Homo sapiens: one gene and its partners. The protein of the gene in region 4 purifies or fractionates together with the protein of the main gene of each other region. This does not show direct contact. Each region holds a gene or a part of one and is shown on either strand. Other genes may lie near its edges.

The links.
Region 1: the proteins of SV2B (region 4) and SLCO1C1 purify together in Homo sapiens (affinity purification with mass spectrometry; one large-scale study listed by BioGRID and IntAct). This does not show direct contact.
Region 2: the proteins of SV2B (region 4) and TTC13 purify together in Homo sapiens (affinity purification with mass spectrometry; one large-scale study listed by BioGRID and IntAct). This does not show direct contact.
Region 3: the proteins of SV2B (region 4) and TTK purify together in Homo sapiens (affinity purification with mass spectrometry; one large-scale study listed by BioGRID and IntAct). This does not show direct contact.
Region 5: the proteins of SV2B (region 4) and RAB39A purify together in Homo sapiens (affinity purification with mass spectrometry; one large-scale study listed by BioGRID and IntAct). This does not show direct contact.
Region 6: the proteins of SV2B (region 4) and NETO2 purify together in Homo sapiens (affinity purification with mass spectrometry; one large-scale study listed by BioGRID and IntAct). This does not show direct contact.
Region 7: the proteins of SV2B (region 4) and DNAJC1 purify together in Homo sapiens (affinity purification with mass spectrometry; one large-scale study listed by BioGRID and IntAct). This does not show direct contact.

The regions. Positions count from the first base shown.
Region 1 is NC_000012.12:20,747,332-20,750,608, forward strand, and holds part of SLCO1C1 (solute carrier organic anion transporter family member 1C1), read left to right. Parts: intron 1-3,277. UniProt on the Homo sapiens protein: Mediates the Na(+)-independent high affinity transport of organic anions such as the thyroid hormones L-thyroxine (T4), L-thyroxine sulfate (T4S), and 3,3',5'-triiodo-L-thyronine (reverse T3, rT3) at the plasma membrane.
Region 2 is NC_000001.11:230,930,362-230,933,861, reverse strand, and holds part of TTC13 (tetratricopeptide repeat protein 13 isoform a precursor), read left to right. Parts: coding exon 1-83; intron 84-1,984; coding exon 1,985-2,126; intron 2,127-2,389; coding exon 2,390-2,564; intron 2,565-3,500.
Region 3 is NC_000006.12:80,035,649-80,039,148, forward strand, and holds part of TTK (dual specificity protein kinase TTK), read left to right. Parts: intron 1-826; coding exon 827-951; intron 952-2,318; coding exon 2,319-2,399; intron 2,400-3,500.
Region 4 is NC_000015.10:91,099,086-91,103,056, forward strand, and holds the start of SV2B (synaptic vesicle glycoprotein 2B), read left to right. Parts: upstream 1-1,171; 5' UTR 1,172-1,278; intron 1,279-1,865; exon of another isoform or gene 1,866-1,991; coding exon of another isoform or gene 1,992-2,013; intron 2,014-2,710; exon of another isoform or gene 2,711-3,235; intron 3,236-3,971.
Region 5 is NC_000011.10:107,934,948-107,938,447, forward strand, and holds part of RAB39A (ras-related protein Rab-39A), read left to right. Parts: intron 1-3,500. UniProt on the Homo sapiens protein: The small GTPases Rab are key regulators of intracellular membrane trafficking, from the formation of transport vesicles to their fusion with membranes.
Region 6 is NC_000016.10:47,137,446-47,140,945, reverse strand, and holds part of NETO2 (neuropilin and tolloid-like protein 2 isoform 1 precursor), read left to right. Parts: intron 1-3,500. UniProt on the Homo sapiens protein: Accessory subunit of neuronal kainate-sensitive glutamate receptors, GRIK2 and GRIK3.
Region 7 is NC_000010.11:21,997,231-22,000,730, reverse strand, and holds part of DNAJC1 (dnaJ homolog subfamily C member 1 precursor), read left to right. Parts: intron 1-3,500. UniProt on the Homo sapiens protein: May modulate protein synthesis.

The DNA of each region.
Region 1 (3,277 bases), on a different chromosome or scaffold from region 4:
GTCACAAGAATTGCTTGAACCCAGGAGGCAGAGGTTGCAGTGAGCCAAGATTGTGCCACTGCACTCCAGCTTGGGTGACAGAGGGAGACTCTGTCTCAAAAAAAAATAGAGTTCAGAATGGGGAGAGAGATGAAACAGCAATGGCAAAACATTAATAATTGTCAAAGCTATGATGGTACATGAGGGTTAATTATATCATTCTGTCTGCTTTTGTGAATTTTTGAAAATGTTCTATTATAATAATCTTAAACCACGTACAGAAAATTGCAAACATTTGAATTTTTTTGGCTTGTCTTCACATCATTAAAGGTAATGTAAAATTGGTTATCACCTGGATTTTTTAAGTGGTAAATCATATATTTGTTTGGTTTTTGAGGCACCAAATAATCCAAATTTAATTCAAAATTTTCTGCTCTTCTTGTTCTTGGGGTTTCAAGCAAAATAGAGGGGATCATTTGTTATTTAAAAATGTAAACATATACAAAGATAGCAAGAACTGTCTTTGTATACAGCAAAGATAGCAATGAACTCCCATTTATCAATTACCCAATTTCAACAATTATCAATACACAGCTCATCTTAGGACATCTGTGTCCCTAACTACTTACCCAACTAGCTTATTTTGAAGTAAGTCTCAGACTACTGTATTTCTTCTATAACATGTTTGGTGTGCTCTTCTAATCAAAACCATAATGACTTGTTTTAATCTGGTGATTCTTGCATCTTAAAAAATAACTTCTTAATATTAGCAAATACCCAATTACTGCTTAAATTCTTTAAATTATCTGATGTTTCCTTACACATGTAGGTTTGAATTAAGAACCAAACAAGGTCCACAATTGCATTAGGTGATATATCTCTAAAATCTTTTTTAATCCATAGGCTTTACTTCCCTCTTTCTCTCCCATTTGTTGCGAAAATTTCAAATCTACCAAAAAATTTAAATTACAATGAATAACTGTATAACTTTTACTGGGATTTATCAACTGTGTCCAAAAACCAGAAATCTCTCTCCTCTGTTTCTCTGAGCATACAAATATTTTGCTGAATCATTTGAAAATAAGTAGTGAACATGCTGACACCTCACTCCCAAAGCCCTCAACTTGTGTTCTTCTACTAGAGCAAATCTATATATAGACTTGTCCTATATAACCACAATACCATTCTCACACTTCAGAAATTCAACATTGATATGCTACTCTATCTAATATAATCCCTCATTCAAATTTCTTTCATTATAACAATAGTGTCTTCTATAGTGTTTTATTTTTTCTTTTGATCCAAGGTCAAAGACCACATATTGCATTTAGTTACCTTTCTTTATCTCCAAAAATTCCTCATTCTTATTTTTTTGTTCTTTTGTGACATTTATATTTTTTTCAAGAGGCAAAGCCAGTTGTTTTGTAAAATATCCCAACTATTGGATGTGTTTGTTTGCTTGTGAGTATGTCCAGGTAAAATATTGTTGGTGGCAATACTACACACGTGATTTGCATGATGCTTAGTAAATCATATCAGGAAGCACATCATTTCAGTTTATACCTCATTGGAATTTTAATTTTGGTCCCTTGGTGAAGGTGGTGTCTACCAGTTTTCTCCATTGAAAAATCCTTCTGCAGTTAATAAGTCACCTATAATTTGACACTTCGAGATTATGTCACCATTCTGTTTCCCAAAAATCTTTCACCCAAAATTTTAGCAGCCATCGATGAGTCTGGATTGAATCAATTATTTACATGAGTATTTGCAAAGTTTAGGTAAACCTTTACATAGAAAATATTTTCAAATATTTTCATTTGTTTTCAAAGAACAAATGGATAATCTCTGAAATTTAGAAGTGTCATAAATATTCTTAGATGACTTTAAAAATTTAGTGAGATTATTTTGTTCAATATAAGCATACAAAGCAATTTTATAACAGAAGAAAACATATACAAAAAAGGTTAAAACTCAAATGCCGGAAACAACCAGACAGTTGATGGAAACGAGTGATGTAGGCAGAGAGAAAGCTGTATGGACTTGTGGTGGACTCCAAGTGTAGGCAGCGGTTGGGGGAGTGAGGCAGCTGCTGCTTAACTCCAGCCAACTATGACCATGGACTGCCAGACAACATGGTTCTTAAGAGAACTCAGAAGTGTGCAAGTTTATATGAAATCTCCTAGGTTTCAGCTATTGGCTACTAACTAAAAAACAAAATCCCAAAGTCTACACAGACTAAATAACCAATGTTAATGAACCACCAATTTAGAACATATAAAATATACACTGAGCTATGAACAACTGCTTAAGATACTTTCGTTAATATTTGCACATGAGAGACACATTTTCTCCCTAAGGAGGGATTAAATTCCTAACATTTTCTGAGAACCTACTAGGGTTTCTGGCATGAATAAGGAGGACATGTTTCCTACCGTGGTGAGCTTACAGTCTAGCAGAGAAGGCAATTCAACAAGCTATTACAGGAGTATTTAAAGTTTGATGAGATGTAAAACAATGAGAATTAATGCAGTTTAGTTTATCAAAATGAACTGAAGGAAAACGTTCAAACTTGGATTTTAAAAGTGAGTGTGTATTAAGAATGTGAATAAGAGAAAATCATTGCTTGGGATAAAGGAAACTACACAAGGCATTCAGACAAGAGGAGAGAACATTTTAGTCACTGAAAGAAATCCAAGAAAATTTGAGTCTGAAATGTAAGACAACAATCTTGCCCAAAGTGAGGCCACAAAAGTAGAAAGACCCAATGTTCAGTTAACTACTCTTCTTTTGGAACAGATGTCTTGGGAAGTCACCTACTTAATTCAGTGATGCAACCTCTGTATGATGTACAGATTTGAGAAGGTTAATGAATGAAGCCAAGGAATCATGAATTGGCTGTTGCTTTAAGTTAGGGTAGAAGGAGTGGCAGTGGGAATGGAAAGAAGAGAAAGTGTTTAAGATATACCTAATAGATAGACTCAGTATGATTCCGGGACAGATTAAATATAGTGATAGCCAGAGAGAGGAGAAAGAAGGATCAATGATAACTCACAAGTCTGCTTTAATGACTGGGCTTCCACTGATAAAGGGACAGGTCTATAGGGGAAGAAGTTGAGCTCATGTTGAGTTTGAAGTGCCTGAGTGACATGCTTCTGGAGATAAATAAATGGCAGTTACTGCATGATTCTGGAGCTTATGAGAAAAGACTGGATTAGAGAGATAGGTTTGGGAGATTTCAGCATGTAATTGATGGCCTTTCATCTCCAAAACAGTAATTAGATTAAAGTAAGTGGTTTCA
Region 2 (3,500 bases), on a different chromosome or scaffold from region 4:
GAAGCTATTGAATCCTTCAAAGAAGCTTTGAAGCAGAAAGTTGACTTTATTGATGCATATAAAAGTCTAGGGCAGGCATATAGGTGAGTAAAATAATAACAGTTGGGGTAGGAGGGAGGCTGAAGAGTGGGGAGACAAGATAGCTTCACATAATATTTAAAAGAAATAGTATTTCTTAACCAAAGGAGATGGGTATTTTGAATTGTGCAAGTATGTATAGACTTGTTGATATTTTCTCTGAAATGCAGAAAAATAAATTGTACCAGAGGATGTCATGATGCACAGTATTCTCTCTTAACTTCAGCGTGTGTATTGGTCTAGAAAACGTTCATCCTTCAAGGGTTGTTTTGAATAGTGGCATTGTAAGCTATTGGGGTGTAGACGCTGCTGCTACTTTCTTAGACAGTAACTAAGGTAAATTTCCTATGATCTCTTTGAAGAGTCCTAGAATGAAGGGATGGAAAAGTTGTGATTATAATGTACATCTGCTGAGAATGAGAAGTTGTAACTAGAACTTGGCTTCCTGACGCCATGCATTGCCCTGATGATTAGAGCCATTGTGACTTTTGGCTTAAAAAAAAAAAAAGTAAGCCGGGAGCGGTGGCTCATCCCTGTAATCCCAGCACTTTGGGAGGCTAAGGCAGGCAGATCACTTGAGGTCAGGGGTTAGAGACCAGCCTGGCCAACATGGTGAAACCCTGTGTCTACTAAAAATACAAAAGTTAGCTAGGCATGGTGGTGGGTTCCTGTAATCCCAACTACTTGGGAGGCTGAGGCTGGAGAATCGCTTGAACCCGGGAGTCAGAGGTTGCGGTGAGCCAAGATTGCACCACTGCACTCCAGCTTGGGCGACAGAGCGAGACTCTATCTCAAAACAGGAAAAAAAAAGTATATTGTGTTATGAAAAGGAGGTAGGATGGCATGAGTGAAGGAGCTCATGACTTAGTTCTGCCTTGGTCGTTCTGCAGGTATGAGTGCTTAACTTCCCTGAGCTTCTGGCTTCTCACTTGTAAAGGTGCTACAAAAGCTAGAAAAGAAAGACAGCGACGGAAAGTCCCTTTATTAGGTACCTTATTCAGGAAGGATTACATTCAAGAGCTTATTTATCTGATAGTTTGAGGAGCTCTTATACTAACTTGGAAGAAGTGTGTTTGGATTTGTTTGGGGTTTAAGGGATGATATTTGTGCTTCCTGTCTCACAGAATTATTGAATATAAATTGAAAACAGATTTGAAAGCACCTTGTAAAGTGCTGTATGAATGTAAGCAGGAATTATATTTTTAAAAAATGTTCACTATTTATAGAGAATTGGGTCCCGCTTTTCAGGAGGTCAAGTGGGAGCATCGCCTGAGCCCAGGAGGCTGATTTCAGCCTGAGCAATGCAGTGAGACCCGGTTTCTAAACCTATTTGAAAAGCAAATAAAAAGCAGATTGATCCATAACAACCATTTCCATCCTGGAATGGTTACAATTCTAAAATACACTTCTTTTTTCAGAATTCTAAATTATATAATGATTTACTAGATTTTAAGCAAAGCAACTTTGGTGACCAAAAAAAAAAAAAATGCATTTTTAAGGCTATGAATTTGATTGAGAATGATGAACTGTTTATGATTATAATTGGTATATTTTTTTCCAAATGGGAAAAGTGTGTTTCTATCCATATATTAACATTTACACAGTTTTTAGGGTTTGGGACTCATTGTGAATAATCAAGGAGAGGGGTTTGAATAAGCGTCTGCCTTTGGAAATCAGCAGATGAATTTTCCCCACAGAATTTCAAGAGCTCTGTGGTTATCCTATGAGCTGGTGAGATTTAGAAGTAAGTGAAATGTAATGTGTCAGAGGCTATAAAAAAGCAACAAAGGGAACACTCCCATCAAGGTATCTTGTTTACATATTGGTCCATAATTCTGAGGATAGCTTATTCTGTATGTTTCCCGTAATATCTATACTGTATTCATAACTATTATTAAATACCTAGAGAACTGGGCAATTTTGAAGCAGCCACTGAGAGCTTTCAAAAGGCACTGTTGCTCAACCAAAATCATGTGCAAACCCTCCAGCTCCGGGGAATGATGCTCTACCACCACGGCAGCTTACAGGAAGCCCTTAAGAACTTTAAGGTGAGCATCCATAAATAAGAACACTGTAATTGGAATTACTGGATTATTCTTCATTGAAGTTTAGTGAAATGAATAGAGAAGGGGGACTGAGAATAGTGTTTCTACTCCAACAAAAAGAAAGAGAAGAAATCATTGCTCTTGTCCTGTAGACTAGTTTACAGGTCTGGTTTAACCTGGAGGGAAAACTAATTCCAGAGTAAAGAATAAAGCATTTCAAAGTTTTCCTAAACTGTGTTGATACTAATGCAGCATTTTGTCCTCAGCGGTGTCTGCAGCTAGAGCCATATAATGAAGTGTGCCAGTATATGAAAGGGCTCAGCCATGTTGCCATGGGACAGTTTTATGAAGGGATAAAAGCACAAACAAAAGTTATGCTGAATGATCCTCTCCCAGGCCAGAAGGCTAGCCCTGAGTATCTTAAAGTAAAGTATCTCCGAGGTAAGTCAGAAAATCACAGAATTGTTGGATTTTCATGCTCAAAGCTGTAGAAATCATATTGCTTGACTCTTTTATGTTTCGTATGAAACAGTGGAGTCTGAAAGAGGCCAGGTGACTCATCCACAGCCACACCTTGTCAGTGCTAGTGTCGAGACTAGATGTTTCTATCTTCAAAAGATCAGTCAAATGCATTTTCTACCACTTTTAACATTTTTACTTTCTAAAGTTAAAACATTTTTTACTTAAGTTGAAAAGCCATATTTTGAACTAAATGTGACAAGCATCTGGAATATTTGTGTCTCATCACATCTCATCCAAGAATACAGGAAGGGCAGGAAACTGACATTCTGTGAGGTTCTTACTGTTTTTTTGTTTTGTTTTGAGATGGAGTCTTGCTCTGTCACCAGGCTGGAGTACAGTGGTGCAATCTCAGCTCACTGCAACCTCCGCCTCCTGGGTTCATCCCATTCTCCTGCCTCAGCCTCCCGAGTAGCTGGGACTACAAGGGCGCGCCATCATGCCCAGCTGATTTTTGTATTCTTAGTAGAGACAGGGTTTCACCATGTTGGCCAGGATGGTCTCGATCTCTTGACCTCGTGATCCACCTGCCTCGGCCTCCCAAAGTGCTGGGATTACAGGCGTGAGCCACCACGCCCAGCTGGTTCTTACTGTTAAATGTGAACTTGGTATCTTTGACTTGTCATTCCTTCATATCAAAATTCTCATATATTTTGGAGAAATATGAGGTGAGGAAGAAAGCAAATCTTGCAGTTACCCTTTTATTAGTTGTAGTTTTACTCACCTTTTATCTCCTGTCTCTGAAGACAGTTTTTTTAATTAAAGCCTACATTCTTTTTTGTTATTGTGAGCCCTTTATACCATGACTGTCCAAAATAAAAAAAAGGGGAAAGCTGTGTGTGTAATTTTAAATTTGTG
Region 3 (3,500 bases), on a different chromosome or scaffold from region 4:
TTTTTCTCAGTATTAACGTAGTCTGTCATCCTTATCTCCAAATACTTGGATTATAGCAGGTCTAAGACTTTGGGGTTCAGGCATCCTGAAAATATGAGATGTTTACTTTATTCATTCTCCTAATCATTTTGTATTGTATGCCCTGTGTGAGAAGTTGGTTTTTTTGTTTGTTTTTTACTGTTAGGCCTACCTTCTGGGTTGGTTTTTACTTGTCCTTGGTTCTTTTTAGGGTTTTTCTCTGCCTTTACCTTATCCTATATATTTTTTTGTTCTTAATAACTGTTATCCTAGTTAATTGTAATTTATCTCCTCCTCATCTCTCTCTCTTAAATTATCTTAAAAGATAATTCACCAGTGATCAAGATCAGGGCTATAGGGGTGGAGATGTCAGGAGCATTAGGGTCTTACTGTCTGGCAGTATAATTTGTGATGCTCTCTAGTGGGCAGTGAATCACAGTGGTTAAGAGGATAGATTCTGAAGCCAGACTGTCTGGCTTCAATTCTAACTGTCACTTAGGCTGTGTGACCTTGTACAAGTTACTTAAACTCTCATTGCCTTAGCTTCCTTGCCTTATAGTGGGGATGATGATAATACTTCAGCATTGATGTGAAGATTAAATGATGCAGTACTGTATAAACAATGAACTTAGAACAGTGCCTGGCACATAACAAGTGCTATGTAAATATTTGCAGAATATATAAAAAAATTATTGAATTGGGTTCACTAATTGAAGGAATAAATACAGCTTGACCTGTAGACTGTGAATTTTTTGGTCCTTAGAATGTTTTGCATTGTTTAATATTACAGTGGATTTTTATTTTAAAGGCATTGTTCACAGTGATCTTAAACCAGCTAACTTTCTGATAGTTGATGGAATGCTAAAGCTAATTGATTTTGGGATTGCAAACCAAATGCAACCAGATACAACAAGTGTTGTTAAAGATTCTCAGGTAAGACTTAATGTTGGTTCTCTCACAGTAGAGTTCAATTCTTTTTTTACCTGTGAAGTATTATATTGCAAATGAGTGTTATATTTTTAATCACCTCATTCTTCAAAGGATTTGAAGTCTTTTAATAAGAATAGATTTAAAAATATAAACCATGATCATTGTAATGTAGAATAGAAAGTCAAGATCAAATAGTAATATCTCCAGCAATTGTGAATGGTTTTCCTATAGCTGAAGTAGAGAAACAGTAATACCTTCCTTGGAAATCACTTGGTCGTGATCAAAAATTGACCTGAAAATTTGGCTCAGAGTTTCCTTGTAGCAAAGAGGGAGTTGCAGTTATATGTTTTTCACTGTCTATGAGGTAAGATCATTTTTATTCTTCTAGAGAAGCCGACCTTTTCCTATCACTGAAATTGGAAAAAAAATTCTTAAGTGGGCCTTCATATTGTAAATGCCATAAGTATTATAAGCAACATTTTTATAATAGATATTGCAACAGCAAACTAAAAGACGTTGTTCTATAAAAACTAAAGCAATGGCACCAAAGTATATCTAAAAGATATTCTTGCTTGGAACCAAGATGATATGTTCCATGTTTACAGATTTTTGATGTGAGTCCACCTTAATCCCAGGAGTAAAATAGACTTTGTTAGGAGGAATGATGGACGACATGCCCTATTTGACAGTCATGTCTCTTTGTATCAAAAGTATGGCAGATCAATGAGTTGTAAATCAGCTTGACAATATCTTCCATGTCAAGGCCCTAAAGTAGATATATTCTGTGTTTAAAGCAAACCATGTATTTTAGAAGAAAATGAGCTCATTGTAAGGTTGGCATATCCTACTGTAGAAACTCAGAGGACTACTGTGAGACAAAGCTAGATGGTATTTTTGTTTGTATATTGGTGGGCTTATTTAAAAAATATATTTTTTTAAAGTTGAGTATGTTACAACAAGAAACGAATGGTAAGTCCCTCAATGGCCTCAAAGTTTATGGCCATTAATAGGATTTTAGCCTGGAGAGTTTTTAGGGCAGGCTTTACTAGTTGCCCAGTATAATCATAGAAAAAGCACAGCATTCTGAAAGGAGTCACTTTGCTGATTATGAACCCAACTCGTTTTGCTGCAGTTGTGAAGAAATTTGATATATATATCTTAACGTTGTCAGCAGTTATTTGAAATTTGCAAGGATATCATTGAAATTTATAATTACCCAAGTTTCCAAGGATCTGGCATTTGTATTTTTAAGAATCTAAAACTTAAAGTATAATAATAATAATAATAATAATAATAATAATCTCAAAAAAAAATCTAAAGCAGAATTAAATATTTTCATTGATTTGTGTTTTCTCTGACTTGGCATATAGGTTGGCACAGTTAATTATATGCCACCAGAAGCAATCAAAGATATGTCTTCCTCCAGAGAGAATGGGAAATCTAAGTCAAAGGTACTGAAAAGATTATTTACATCACAATTATCTGGCAACAGTAGGGAATGCACTATTTTCTGAATAAACTTACCAGATAACAATTTCTTTAAGTTCTAAAACTTTTTAGGCCATTACAGAGACATTGCTGGTTTTTTTCGTTTCCAATTCTTACTATTTTTCACCACTTATTCGTTTGTGAATTCTACATTTCCAAGTACAGCTGGAGAATGTAATTGTTTTCTGGCCTGCCACTGGCTACTTTTCCACTGACTTTATCTCGCTACCTCGATGAGTTTGCGTTAGCCTCATGGGTGCCCTTTGTCCGGGGCTCCTTTTGCCTACCTTGATGCCTTGGGCTCCCAGGCTAACCCTTCTTTCTCTACATCAGTGTAACCAAGTGGGTGCAAGCACACATTGTCCCAGGGACCTGTATTCATTCAAGTCATAGATCTGCCTCTTCATTAACAACTGTCTTTGGCCAAGTGACTTGCCTAGTTTCCCTGTCTCTAAATTGTGCCTATAGACAGTGCCTATTGTAAAATAAATTGAGGATTAAATGGGAAAGAATATATAAAGTACTTAGTACATTTATCCAGCTCAGAATCATTGCTTGATAAATGTGTTTTTATTTACTAAATTTTATTTTCCTCCTTAGAAAATCTGGCTTGTAAGTGTTTTTCAAATAACTGGCATACAATTTTGCCAAATGTTTTCATAAAATTCTTTTTATATTTGTTTAGCCTCCACTCTTCTAAAACTTAAATTTCTTGTGTTTTTATTAGACTTTCTGTGGTTTTGTTCTTCTTAAATAAGCAGTTCCTGACTTCATTTATCAACTCTATTTTCATTTGCTTTACAACTTGAGTACTTGTGATAACCAGAAACTTTTCTCTATGATTAACCATATTTATGGTTTATCATTTAATGCCCATGACAATGTACTTTTATAATTTCTATATCAGAGTTGAGAAAACAGACACATAGCATTACCAGTTAGTAACACATCTTCAAGATATGTTAAAGGTAATATTAATTTCATATAACTAATTATTTACTTGAAATAGCTGAAATGATTGGAATTGTGTAATTGGCTTAGATATAACTATTCTATTTAAAAGA
Region 4 (3,971 bases):
TCAAAAAAAAAAAAAAAAAAATGTTTCGGATTTTTCAAGGACACTGGGAAGCCATCACATGGTTTTAGGTAGGAAAGAGTCAAGATCAGATTTACATGTTGAGAAATGACTCCAGGAGCCTGAGAAGTTGAAGTCCTTGCGGGTGGTCCAGGTGCGAGTCGGCGGAGGCCCCAGCCAGGGAAGAGGCAGGGAGCTGGAGCGCAGGTCATTGACGGCAGCGAGAGTGGGGAGTCCAGCTGAAGACCTCATGATGGAGGATGTGCTCCATGGAGAAGAGGGGGAAGGCTCTTCCAGAACTGGCCTTCATTTTAGCCCTGTTAGGAAAGGAACGTAGCTTCGGATCCTAGAGGGGCCAGGCACCTGCAGTGTTGTGCTGTTTGAGTCCGCATCCGAATTTCCAGTGTCCTTTCCTTGCTCCTTACTTGCTCCTAGAAGGAGCCCTATGCTCCTAAAGAGTCTTTCGGTGCTGAGCCTTGGCAGTTTAGTTTGCTGAACTCTCGTCAGTGGAGTTAGTGGGTGGTGGTTTGGAAGGAGGGAGACAGAGGTGGAGGGCTTGTTTGAATGCACCAAGCCTTGCAGGCTTTCCTCCTCCCCGCGCTGGCCGGGTAGGTTCTCTTCAGTTCCTGATGAGGCAAACGAGAACAAAGCAGTCGAACAGCACCATGATCGACGATACTTTGGGGGCGGCGTGATCAGAGGATTCCCCTTCCCGGGAACTTGCGTCTAGTCCTCTGACGCATCCTAGTTCGGAGTGGGTGGAAGGGCATGTGGAGTCCACAGCGCCCCCTCGCCCTAGGCGGGGTGGAGACAGCGAGACGACGCCCATGATCAGCTGGTTACAAAACTCGAGGAATAAGAAGTTTAATATTTATTGGTCTGCAAATCCGGAGACCTTGCGGCCTCACTGGTCCTCCTTCCCTCTGAGCTATCTCCACACCCAGCCTTCGATCAGAAGGAGATTTAGAAGCAGAGCTGCCCGCAGCGAATACTTTTAATGCCCGGGCCGGGAAGAAAGCGGGTTAGGATCTGATCCCGCTGAGTAGAGGACCCAGGAGCCTCCCGCCCCGCGTGCTCTGTAGCGCGGGGGCGCGCTGCGCGCTGCGCCTGGGCGGCTGGCGGGGGCGGCGTGGGCGCGGTGATGCAGGTGTGACACCCGCCGGCGCCTGCCTCCGCCCGGATCGCCCAGCTCCGCGTTAGCCGGAGCTGCACGCGGGGCTGCCGGGGCGGACGCTGCTCTGCCTGCATCCGGAGGCGGCCGCCAGCGGATTTGCCACCCAGGTAGGGGACTGCGTTGCTCGCTGCGGTGCAACCGACCCAGCCGGGGCGCGGACCCCGCGTGCGCCAGGGCTCCCAGACTCGCCTGCCTGGGCTGAAATATACACGCTCGCACAGCTGAGTGCTGTTCATAGTAAATGGCACAAAAGATCGGAGAGTCTTGAAAAACCGGCGCAGAAAAGCAAGGACTTGCCCGCTGCCTGGAGCTGTGCGCTTCTTTGAAAGCGGCCTCCCCAAGGGCTGTTTTAAAACCCTGTTTGAACTATTAGCGCCATAAGTAGTTTTGCAACTTATAAATGTCAGGCTGCTGGCATTTATAGCTCCGTTTCCATAAGCTTCCTAGCCGCTGCTTTTAGTTTCAGTTACATTCTAGTAGATAGATTTTGTTATTGTTGTTGGCTTGTTCTTAAAGAACAGAATTCAAACGTGCTTACACCTGGTGGCTCTTGGGGTTTGTGAGTGTGTATTTCTGTATGTGCAGGGCGCCCTCCGTGGGCGTGGGAGCCGTTTCTTAGGGACACAGAAGGATTTGTTTATGGACGGGTTTTAGCGCAAGGGAAAGAAAATGACTTGTTTTGCAGGGATGGGCTAGCAAATGCGTTTAGCCAGGGAGGAGCAAGGCACCGCTGTGTCTTCGGCAGACGGGTGGTAGAAATCTCTGCTGTCCAGGGTTCAGCAGGGCTGATGAAATACACTCCTTTATCCGGAAATTACAGATGCAAATTACTCCGTTTAAGGGTAACTTAACGTTGGTGTCTTGGGCTCTGATAAGAGCAGCCCCAGTGGGGTGGGGTGGGACGCTGGGGGAATGCTTGCTGGCTTTCTAGCCCTTGGGGAGGTGAATGTGGGTGGCTTTGGGGCTCAGAGAGTGGCAGGTGAGGGGTAAGGAGGGTGCATGAGGGAGGACTGGGCACTGTAGTCGGCTCAGCGGTGGTTCTGGTCTATGCTGGTCTCCTCTGTGTTTCTGCTTCCTGCCCTTTCCAGAAGAGGTGACTTGTTCTGCTTGTTCCAGTTGGTGCAGTAGGTACAGGCTCGTTCTGCATCTTTCTTGAGTCAGCAAATACTTACTGAGCACTTAGTATTTGTCAGAGATGGGATTAGTCCTTGGGGATGCAGAGATGATGATAACAATGTCCTGGCTCCCTGAGGTTCACACCTGGTAGGGGGAGAAGCACTCGTAATCAGGAGGTGGATAAGTTCATGATGGTGTTGGAAAAGAGCAGTGAGAGCAGAGAGGAGGAGGAAATTGATAGTGGCAGTGATTAGTATAAAAATGAAGCCCTCATGGATTAGGCATGGCGTGGATTTCAGCAGGGACTGGGTCGCTCTCTTGGTTCTTCGGTCCGGGAGTGACCCACATGACTCTCCCACACCATTGCCATCACTGCCACTGGGTGGGCAGAGCTTTACAAGTCTCGGCTGGGCTGGTATTTGCAGTATGTGACTAGACCCCAGTAGACACAGGCTGACACCCAGAGAGGAGCACACACAATACAAGTCAGACTTTAATTTTTTCCTTTTTTAATGAATGCTTTTCCTGAATTCCAGGACTATGAAGGTTTTGAAGCAACACTTCACAAAGGCAGGGACTCTGGAAAATTCTGAGGGAGTTTCAGAGCAGATGAACTTCTGTCTGCTTCTCCCTGGGTCCCCGACCTATCTGTTCTTGTCCCAGCCCAGTTCAAAAGGAAAACTCTCCCTTGATTTTCCCTAAATGGGTGGAATAAGGGAAAACTAAAGCTGTTACTACCAGTCTTTTCTGGGAGATGAAAATCCAATCTCAAGGATGTTTCTTCCTGGACCAAAGCTGTGATGGGTGACGAAAAATGATAGAATGAAAAGCTCTTGTGTTATGTATTTGCCAGAGATGTGTGTTACATGCGCCTACATCATCATTAAGGTATTTGAAAAGCAGCGTGCACTACAAGAAGCATGAGCGTGGATGCTCAAACAGACCTAGGTGAGTGTCTTGGGCAAGTTACTCAGCCCCTCTTTGAGCATTAGTTTCCTGATCTGTAAAATGGAGACAGTAATAGGATTCTTATAATAATTAAAGAAAAGATACTTTAAAATATTTACTCATTGTTACCCGATCATCATATATAACTTGCCTGGCACAAAGTAGGTGCTCAAGAAATGGCAGTTCATTCATTAAGTTCCTACTATGTGTCAGCCATTGCTCTATGTGTGGAGAATACAGACAAAAACAACCAAAAAAGCCCTCTCTCAAGGAGCTTAAATTAATGAGAGAGTGTGTGTATGTGTGTGTGTGTAAGATGATGGACAAATAAATAAGTATAGAGTGTATCAGCTAATGAGACACTGTAATGGAGAAAAATAAAGCTGGCTGAGAGGACTGGGGAGTGCTGCCAGAGGGCAGGGTGGGGCTTGTTATTTATTTTTATACAGCTTGGCCAGGGAAGGCTTTTTGGTAAATGACATTTGACCAGACATCTGGGGAAGTGAGGGAGGAAGCCAGGGATTCTGGTAAATGACATTTTACCAGACATCTGGGGAAGTGAGGGAGGAAGCCAGAGGTTGCAGGCAGCACCTGCAAAACCCTGAGATAGGAGAGAGGTGTGTTCCCAAGAGACCCAGAAAGGAGGCCACGGAAGCTGCTGTTGAGTCAGACACCCGGGACAGCAGTAGGACCTGAGGTCATAGGGGCAACACGGCAGGTATTTGAGATATTGCCT
Region 5 (3,500 bases), on a different chromosome or scaffold from region 4:
AAAATAGAGACAGCCTCCCTCCTCTCCCTTCCCCACAGAATCTGGGAGCAGCCCCTAACTATTACCACTAAATCTTCCCGGCCTTTGCCTGCCTCTCCATGTTTTTTCCCCTAGCTCCTCTTCTGCTATGCATCTTTCTCCTTGCCAGGTGTCTTACTGTTACAGGAAAGGGGTCCCGATCCAGACCCCAAGAGAGGGTTCTTGGATCTTGCACAAGAAAGAATTCAGGGCAAGTCTGCAGTGTAAAATGAAAGCAAGTTTATTAAGAAAGTAAAGTGGTGAAAGAACAGCTACTACACAGACAGAGTAGGACGTACCTGAAAGTAGCAGGAGGAACGCATCCGCCCTAGGTACAATGCTTGTATATATATGAGGAGATGTGCTCTCTGCCACAAGGGTTTGTGATAAAGGATTAATTTTCTTTCTTCTTCTTTTTTTTTTTTTGGAGACAGAGTCTGGCTCTGTCGCCTAGGCTGGAGTGCAGTGGTGCGATCTCGGCTCACTGCAAGCTCCACCTCCCGGGTTCACACCATTCTCCTGCCTCAGCCTCCCGAGTAGCTGGGACTACAGGCGCCTGCCACCATGCCCGGCTAATTTTTTGTATTTTCAGTAGGGACAAGGTTTCACTTTGTTAGCCAGGCTTGTCTCGAACTCCTGACCTCAGGTGATTCACCTGCCTCGGCCTCCCAAAGTGCTGGGATTACAGGTGTGAGCCACCGCGCCCAGCTAATAAAGGATTAATTTTCTTAATTACCACATTTTGCAAGAATCGATATTATTATCTTTAAAGCAAAATTAGGAATGCCTTTGTTCTCCAGATATTGGAATATCTGGACACTCCCAAGTCTGGGTCTGTTTAGTAAACATTATTAATTTGTTCCCTTAGCCATAAACATCTAGAGGCTAGGAATGCCCAACTTTCTGGGGAACGCAGCCCAGCAAGTCCTGGCCACTTTTTTTTTTTTTTTTTTTTTTTTTGAGACAGTTTTGCTCTGTCACCCAGGCTGGAGGGCAGTGGTGTCATCCTGGCTTACTGCAACCTCTCCCTCTTGGATTCAAGCAATTCTCCAGCCTCCCAAGTAGCTGGGATTACAGGTGTGTGCCACCATACTCAGCTAGTTTTTGTATTTTTAGTAGAGACAGGGTTTCAGCATGTTGGCCAGGCTGGTCTCGAATTCCTGACCTCAAGTGATCCGCCCACCTCGGCCTCCCAAAGTGGTGGCATTACAGGCGTGAGCCACTGCACCTGGCGTCATTTTCCTAGCCCTTGCTCAAAATGGAGTCACTCTGGTTCGAATGCCTCTGACATTAGTCCCCCTCCAGCTTATTTTTATTTTTTCTTTACCCCTTTCCTCTGTCTATCCATACTGATGTTTACTTTCATCCTCTTCCCCCCACCCCATTTTTATTTTAATGTGTCTCTTACTCTTCCATTTCCTTTTAGCTTATCTTCCCTTATCCCACTGGCTTATCTTCTCTTCTCCCACTGGCTACCGCATGTGTCTGTTTTCTCTTCTGCCTCTTCCAAACATCCATATAAAGTTAATGTTTCAAAGTGATTTAATTTATGTACTCTGTTCTTAATTTTAAAAGCAAGCAATATTAACATTTTAAATTTCTTCTTAAGAGACTTTTTAAAATCTCTAAACTAAATTAGTTATTTTTGGTTTTGTTTCTTTTTAAAAAGTCCCTCATTTGATTCTCAGCTCCCTCACTGTGGTTCATGGCCTTCAAAAGAAAACGATTTTTTGTTCCTTCAGTAGAAAATGATTGGTACCAGTCTGGCAAACATGGTGAAACCCCATCTCTACTAAAAATACAAAAACAAATTAGCTGTGCATGGTGGTGCACACCTATAATCCCAGCTACTTGGGAGGCTGAGGCAGGAAAATCCCTTGAACCCAGAAGGTGGAGGTTGCAAGGTTGCAGTGAGCCGAGATTGCGCCCCTGCTCTCCAGCCTGGGTGACAGAGCGAGACTCCCCCTCCAAAAAAAAAAAAACAAATGAAGAAAATGATTGGTGGGTCCATAATTGCATAGGTAACAGAGCAGAGATGACCATAATCACTGCAGTCTACTGTAGTTCCAAGTTATTGTTAATAGAAAGGTCAGCTATAGTTCTATTATCAGGTAATATAATGTCTTAGTTAAAAGTGTATTGTAAGTAGTAGAAATCTAGCCAAATTCATTTATTTATTTGTTTTTTAGAGACAGAGTTTTGCTGTGTAGCCCAGGTTGAAGTGCAGTGGCACAATCATAGCTCACTGCAGCCCAAACTCTTGGGCTCCAGTGATCCTCTTACCTTAGCCTCCTGAGTAGCTAGGACTACAAGCACATGCTATGGCACCCAGCTAATTAAAAAAAAAAAAAATTTGTAGAGACAGGGTCTCGCTGTATTGCCCAGGCTGGTTTTGAACTTCTTGCTTCAAGTGATCCTCCCTCCTTGGCCTCCCAAAGTGTTGGGATTACAGCCATGAGCCACTGCACCAGGCCCAAATTAGTTTAATAGGGAATAAATTATAAATGATACAGATTTCATGAAAGCAAAAGCTCACTGAACATCCAGGTGTTTGGAAGTATGGAATTATTACTATTTTTTTTTTTTTTGAGATGGAGTCTTGCTCTGTCGCCCAGGCTGGAGTGCAGTGGCGCAATCTCGGCTCACTGCAAGCTCCGCCTCCTGGGTTCAAGTGATTCTCCTGCCTCAGCCTCCCAAGTAGCTGGGATTACAGGCACCTGCCACCATGCCCAGCTAGGAAGTATGAAAAATTTTAAAACAAGAGTTTGTGGACTTCCCCTCTAGTCTATTTCCCTTCTCCAACTCTGTTGGCTCCTAGCTCTCAGTCTCTGAGCCTCTTATTCAAACTCTTGAAAGAAAAAATATCTCATTGACTACTTAACTATCCAGTGAATCAGCTCCCCTGCAGTCAGGTTATTGAGTTACACAGACATATAATACAAATGTATTATAACATAAATATACTAAGTAGGTATTATGGGTCAGATAATGTAAATGTATCTGTAAAGGTCCACTTTTTTGGAAAGAGAAATTCACAGAGAAGGGAAATGAGCAGTCACCCCCAAAGTGTCTATTTTATGGTGTTTGAGAGTAAAATGGTATATAAGAATGAGATGGCCAGGCATGGTGGCTCACGCCTGTAATCCCAGCACTTTGGGAGGCCGAGCCGGGCGGATCACCTGAGGTCAGGAGTTCGAGGCCAGCCTGGCCAACATGGTGAAACCCAGTCTCTACTAAAAATACAAAAATTAGCCGGTTATGGTGCACACCTGTAATCCCAGCTACTCGAGAGGCGGAGGCAGGAGAATTGCTTGAACCCAGGAAGAGGAGGTTGCAGTGAGCCGAGATCACGCCACTGCACTCCAGTCTGGGCAATAGAGCAAGACTCCGTCTCAAAAAAAAAAAAAAAAAAAAAGAATGAGACAGCATCGTTTCTAACAAGTGCACCAGAGTGCCAAAAGATGATCTGTGTAGCCAGACAT
Region 6 (3,500 bases), on a different chromosome or scaffold from region 4:
TTATAAATCCATTTTTTGTTCTTATTCTGCACACTTGCTTCAGGAGAATCTGTTCGACTCAGCAATATTTCAAGCTGTAGAAACTGGTTAAATTTGTAATGTAACAGCAAAAATATTCCTTGGCACTGTATTTAAAAATCTTGTCTGAGACGGTGCAAGTATTAACTCGTTTTTCATTCTTACATTTCACCCAGGACTATAAACTAGTTATACAGAAATAAGTGTGGTACTGAAAAACTTGTCCTTTAATACTAAAGCCTTATTAAAAATCAACTTTTTGGCTTTTCCTTCCAGGGGTTGGGAAAAACTGTTTTAACACTGTCAATTGAAAAGTCTTATTAAATAATGGTTTTTTTGTAGTAAATCCTCAACTGCAATCTGGTTTATCTTTCATTTTGAAATTAAAATCACTATTTAGGAAAAACCCTGCATGACAAAACAAGTTGAAATCAAAGCCATTTTCAGTCCTTTTTAGAAAAGATAGAAAAATGATAGACTAGAAATAAAGTTCATATCTGAAATTTTAAAACAATAGACTACCTCCTTCTCTTGGGGTACCACCCATCCAGCACAATCTCCTATCATTTTTCAACTTACGCTCCTGTAGAATAATTATTTATACTTAGAAATACGTCTCCCTGAGGCACTGGAGATTGAAATTATTATGATCTTTGAGTTGGAAAGGAGCATCTTAAGAGGTGGTCTAATCCAATGGTTTCCAAACTTCAGAGGAACTTTTGTGAGGAAGCACTTGAAAAAAAAAGGAAAAAGGACAACAGAACAGAGTTGCTGTGATTGGTGGGAGGCCTTGCCCTCTCAGTCACCTCAAACACCAGGGTGGCTCCAAGAACTGACACTTCAACGGGTTTGTTATATTGCTTCCAAAATTACAGGGTATACTAATCTGAAAGTTCAGTCCTTTCTAATCAAAATGACATTAAGACATGTTGGTTTAAATATGCCTGGAGTAACATTGGAAATTACAGCACTAGAAGATACCAAGTAGTCTTTCAAATATGACCTGATCATGTTAGAAGGTGATGGTAGTCACTGTACAGTCAGGAGGACTGATGTGTAATTAAAATACAGCTTACAAAAGCGCCATCTCAGATCAGCTCGACTAAGGAGGAGTTTGTCACATTCTGCAGGAAAGAGAAAGCACTTCTGCTATAGAGTTACTCTTTCTTACTAAAGTGATTGGCATGTCATTAGCATATGTAGGCTGGAGTGATCCCAAAGTTCACCATCCATCTTTGTTCTTAACTAGTAAAGTATGATTGAGTTTGATTAAATTTGGGTACTTTTTTTGTTCTTTGGAACATAGTTTATCAAAAACAAGTGACTGCCATGTCAAATAGTATGTGGACTCTAATTGAACTCTGTTCTGCTGTCATTATAGGAAATGGTAATGAGCAGAGAGACCAGGTAGGTGGTTCTCTGTGTTGGATTTTAAAAGCTTTATGTTTACCACTGAGTTGCTTAACACAGGAAGATGTAGAAAGAGACACACTTAATTACTAACAAAGGTAAATTGAGCCAGCTTGAGGAAAATAACAGTGGTGGCAGGGTATCTCAGGAGGGTGGGGGGGAATCTCAGTTCTTTTCCCATCCCCTGATTTGTGCTCGCATTTAAAAAAGCAAGGTCACATGTGTGGCTACTGTTTGTTCATCCAAGATGTGTGCCTGTCAGTTACTGTGCTATGTGTTTGCGGTTACAAAGAAGATGCACTGGAGTCGCGCTCAGTCACCCCCATGTGTTCATCGTGTCTGTATTGAATACTGTTGAGGCCAGACAGTCTTTTAGGCTGTGGAGATGCATCAGTGAATCAGACAGACAAGGCCCTTCTTTCTAGTGAGAAGAGACAGACAACCAACAAGACTCAAAATACCAGGTAATATAATAATGAAGTAAAGCAAAATGAAGGAGAAAATGTAGCGCTTATTTAGAAATTGGGAAAGCCTCACAAGACCTGAACAACAGGAAGGAATCAGCCAAAGAGATTCTAGGCCGAAGGCACAGCTGGTTCCTGAGGCAAGAATTAGCTTGATGTGTTTTGAGTGATGGGAAGGCGGCCTGTGTTCTAGTAGAGAGCGCTCGGAAGGCCAGAGAGACACGCAGGCTCCAGGTCACATAGTACCTCCGAAGTCAGAGTAAGGGGCACAGAGTTGTTCTAACTATAATGGGACTCTACTGGAAGATTTTAAGCAAGGCTGTGATGTGATCTGATTTGTATTTTGAAAAGGTCACTGGCTGCTGTGTACATAATACACTATAGGGACTGTGGCAGAAACTTCCAGTTGTCTAGAAATGTCCATTTAACTATTTGTCAGTAATTCTCTGAATTTAACTGAGCGCACAGTTCCCCAAAATGAAGACTATTTACCAGTTTCCTGTTGGTTTAGGTGACCATGTGACTAAGTCTAGCCAGTTAGATATAAGTAGAAAATGATGTGTGCAACTTAGGGGAATTGTTGTTTTTGTTGTTTAAACTTTTATTTTGAAATCATTGTAGATTATGGGCAAGTGTTTTTGTTTTGTTTTGTTTGAGATGGAGTCTTGCTCTGTCACCCAGGCTGGAGTGCAGTGGCACGATCTTGGCGCACCACAACCTCTGCCTCCCAGGTTCAAGCGATTCTCCTGCCTCAGCCTCCCCAGTAGCTGGGACTACAGGCGTGTGCCACCATGCCCGGCTAATTTTTGTATTTTTATTAGAGACGGGGTTTCACCATATTGTTCAGGCTGGTCTTGAACTTCTGACCTCATGACCCGCCCACCTCAGCCTCGCAAAGTGCTGGGATTACAGGCGTGAGTCACCGCGCCTGGCCCTGGGCAAGTGTTTTTAAAGAAAGAGAGAATGCCCTTTATCAAGTCATCATTCTTGATAACTAGAATGCAGACATGGGAGCTATAATGAAGATAGAATAGCTGGCACTCCAGCCTCATACTGGACCATAGGGTGACCTTGGAAATGAGCCTCTCACAGCTGGGTAGTGAGACAGAAGGAACCCAGGTCCTGGTATTTATAGAGCCTTCACTCTGATGCTTGACTCCCTATGTCCAGCTTGTTCGCATGACAGAGCAATGTATTTCTATCTTGTTTTAAACTGTTAGTTTAGGTATTTCTGTTACTCATGCCAAACCTAATGCTAACATAGAAGTGTGCAAAATCAGTATAAGAACAAAAAAATTAAAAAACAGATGGAGAGCTGTTGAATGATCAGAAGTGAAAAGTCTGAATGCAGTCAAGTAAAATTAATCTGGAAAGGGTTCCTGGAGAAAGCAGGTTTTAGAAAATGTACTTTCATGGAAGCAAAGAGGTCCAAGGTCCCTGGCAAGTGCAGATGTTCAGAAACAAGAAGTATTTGTTGGAGCCCTTATAAGAATAGATAGTAGAGCCTTCACCTCAAGTTCAACGTTTCCAAAATCGACTCAACTCCTTTTCGCCCACCCCTGCCCTGCCCAATCCATATTGGTCCAAACATGTCTCCTGCCACTACCA
Region 7 (3,500 bases), on a different chromosome or scaffold from region 4:
TCATCCATTAGGACTCCACCTTCGTGATATAATCACCTCACAGAGGCCCCACCTTGTATTACTGTCACAATGGGGATTAGATTTCAACATAAGAATTTCGAAGGACAAAAACATTCAGACCATAGCATGGTAGAAGGACATTCAAGGAAGAGCAGACAGTAAGCACAAAGGCCAGGAGGCAAGAGCTTGCTTAGCGTTTGAGGAATAGCAAGGCAGGCAGTGTGGCTGGAGCAGAGTGATCAAGGAAAACAGTAATGGGAGAACAGCAATAGGAGACAAGATCTGAGTCATAGGTGGTAAGGGAAGACCATGTAGGGCTTTGTAGGCCATTGTAAGGACTTCGGCTTTTACTTATAAGTAAGTTGGGGGAGGTGGTGTTTGAACAGAAAAGATACATGATTTGACTTGAATTTCAAAATGATCTCTTTAGTGTACTGAGTATAGTCTGTGAGGCATTAGTTACTTAGAGGGATAATTGTGGTATAGATTGGACCTGGGTGGTAGCAGTGGAGGTGGTGCAAAATGGTCAGATTCTGGATTGAATTTCAACATGGAGCAAACAGAATTTTACTGATGGCTTGAATGTGGTATGCGAGAGAAAAAGAGAAACTGAAGATAATTCTAAAGATTTTTGGCTTCAGTAACTGGAAGGATGCAATTGCCATTTGTTGAGATGGAGAAACCTGGACTAGGAGCCTGGTTTGGAGAACATCAGGAATTTGGTTTACGGACATGCTAAATTTGGGGTGTCTGTTAAACGTTGAAGTTGAGCTGGTATGTAGGCAATTGGTTATTCAGGTGTAGAGTTACAAGAAGAAAGTTTAGGGCTGTAGATAGGAATTTGGGAGTCCGAGGCACTTAGAGAGTAACTTGAAGCCACAAAACTGGATGAGTTCACCAAGGGAGTGAACGTAAAAGAGAAGAGAAGAGATCTGGGAGCTAATAAGCCTTGGGGATTCCAGACTTTAAGAGTCAAGGAGCCGGGTGTGGTGGCTCACGCCTGTAATCCCAGCACTTTGGGAGGCTGAGGCGGGTGGATCACGAGGTCAGGAGTTCAAGACCAGCCTGGCCAACATGGTAAAACCCCGTTTCTACTAAAAAGATAAAAATTAGCCAGGCGTGGTGGCAGGCGCCTGGAATCCCAGCTACTCGGGAGGCTGAGGTAGAGAACTGCTTGAACCCGGGAGGCGGAGGTTGCAGTGAGCCAAGATTGTGCCACTGCACTCCAGCCTGGGCGACAGAGCGAGACTCCGTCTCAAAAAAAAAAAAAAAAAAAAAAGAGTCAAGAAGATGGAGGGGAATCAACAAAGAAGATAGAGCAGGAACGACCAGTAAGGTAGGAGGCAAACCAATACAAGGTTCTCTTCAGTCAAGTGAAAAAAGTGTTTCAAAGACAAAGGGATCAGCTGGGTTAAATGATGATGATGATTCAAATAAGATGAGCTTTGAGACTTCACCGTTGGAATTAACCGTATGGCGGTCACAGGCTACCTCAGTAAGAACTGTTTTGGTGAAGTGGTGAGTTCAGTAGTCTGGGTAGATTGGGTTCAGGAGAGAATGAAAGGGAAGAATTGGAGACAATTAATATAGAACATTCTTTTGAGATATCCATATCCTAAACTAGAAGGCAGAGATGGTAGTGACTGTCTGTGGCATCTTCTTTATCCCCTTATCCACCAGGTATAAGATAACTCAGTTACTCTCTAAGCTCTATAATCTGAATAACAGATGACTTAGAACTTGGACCAGACCACCTTATGACCTTGGACAAGTTAGTTGCCTCATTTTTAGGACAGATGGTAGCTTTTTATTTTCTTCATAGTAAGGCACATAGTAAACACCTAAATATTTATTGAATCAAACATTATAAACATTGTAACTAAATGCAAACTGTAATTCCCCAAACAAGTAGTTGCTTGACAGTTTTTACTCAACAGATTTTACTTCTATGTAATCTTTCACAGCCTTCAGGCAGCAGAAGAATCTTCTTCCATGTATCCTTAGATTTCACGTCCATTCTAGAAGTCTAGAAAGGGGTTGCAGAAGTCTTTGTTGGGGGGTATATACAGATGATTTATTAGTCATTCATACCATGTTTAGAATGACTTTAATAATAGGGCACTCCAATTTGGATATTGCATCTTTTCAGAGGAGATGGGGGGAAGATGAGAGAGGAGTGTAGGAAAAAAGATGTGCTATTGAAAGATCTTTCGTTACCATCTTAAATTATAGGTTCCTGCACAGTATTTATATTTTGTGTAACAGCACCTGCTTCTCAGACACCTGTACTTCTTGTGGGGTCAGTGGCAATTCTGTATTTCTTTTTTTTTTTTTTTTTTTTGAGATGGAGTCTTGCTCTGTCGCCCAGGCTGGAGTGCAGTGGCGCGATCTTGGCTCATTGCAACCTCTGCCTCCTGGGTTCACGCGATTCTCCTGCCTCAGCCTCCCGAGTAGCTGGGATTACAGGCACCTGCCACCATGCCTGGCTAATTTTGTATTTTTAGTAGAGATGGGGTTTCGCCATGTTGGTCAGGCCGATCTTGCACTCCTGACCTCAGGTGATCCACCCACCTCGGCCTCCCAAAGTGTTGGGATTACAGGCGTGAACCACTGCGCCCAGCCTCTATATTTCTTTTAATTGTCTTTTGGGACCATGACTTTCCTTATCCTTTGTATACAGTAATTCTAGCCAACAGTAAACACTTCATATTCATTTAAAAAAATCTGTGAATTGAAATAATGACAAGCTAAATTATCTTAAATTTTGTAGTATTTACTTTATGCTGAAGTCAAGATTTGTCTTCATGGTGCCAGTCAGTCATTACAGACTTCTATTTATGTAGCTAGAAAATGTGCTTCATTCTCTTTCTCTCGTGTTTTATAACTAAATCCTTATATTCAAATGAATGCTGAAACTTGGTTAACAGAAGAAAAGCAGAAGAACAGGGATGTGCTTATAAAATATTTGGATTTTAATTTTTAGATAGGAATTAATAAACCTTTTAAGCTCATTCGGCCTGTATTTTCAAATGTACAGATTAGCTAGCCTGTTTAGAGGAGGGACAATTATTGCCCATTCATCCGTGCCCCATGGTTGGGAGGAACTTCCCTAAAAAAACACCACTGATCACTAGACCCATCTCTAACATCTTACCATGGCGGTGTGAGTTACCTTACTGGAGGGTGATTGCCTTTGCTCTGTTTTGCTTGATTAGGAAGAGCTGATCAGTCAGAAAGCTATGAGTAGTGGGAATCAGTCTCTTTGCACCTCTCTGCCCAGACCAGTAAGGCAATTATCCTAACCAGACTTACCCTTGAGCATACTGTCTCAAAGTCTAGAATGTAGAGGAGAGGGCACAAATTGCTAGCAAGCCCATTTGGCCATCACATTTAACCTGTATTCTTCAATAGCTGTATCAGTTATAAAGGTTCATCTCTTGTCTGCCCGACTCCTGTGTCCACTCAGTTTTTTGGATGGGAAAAACCAGTTAATGGGGCCT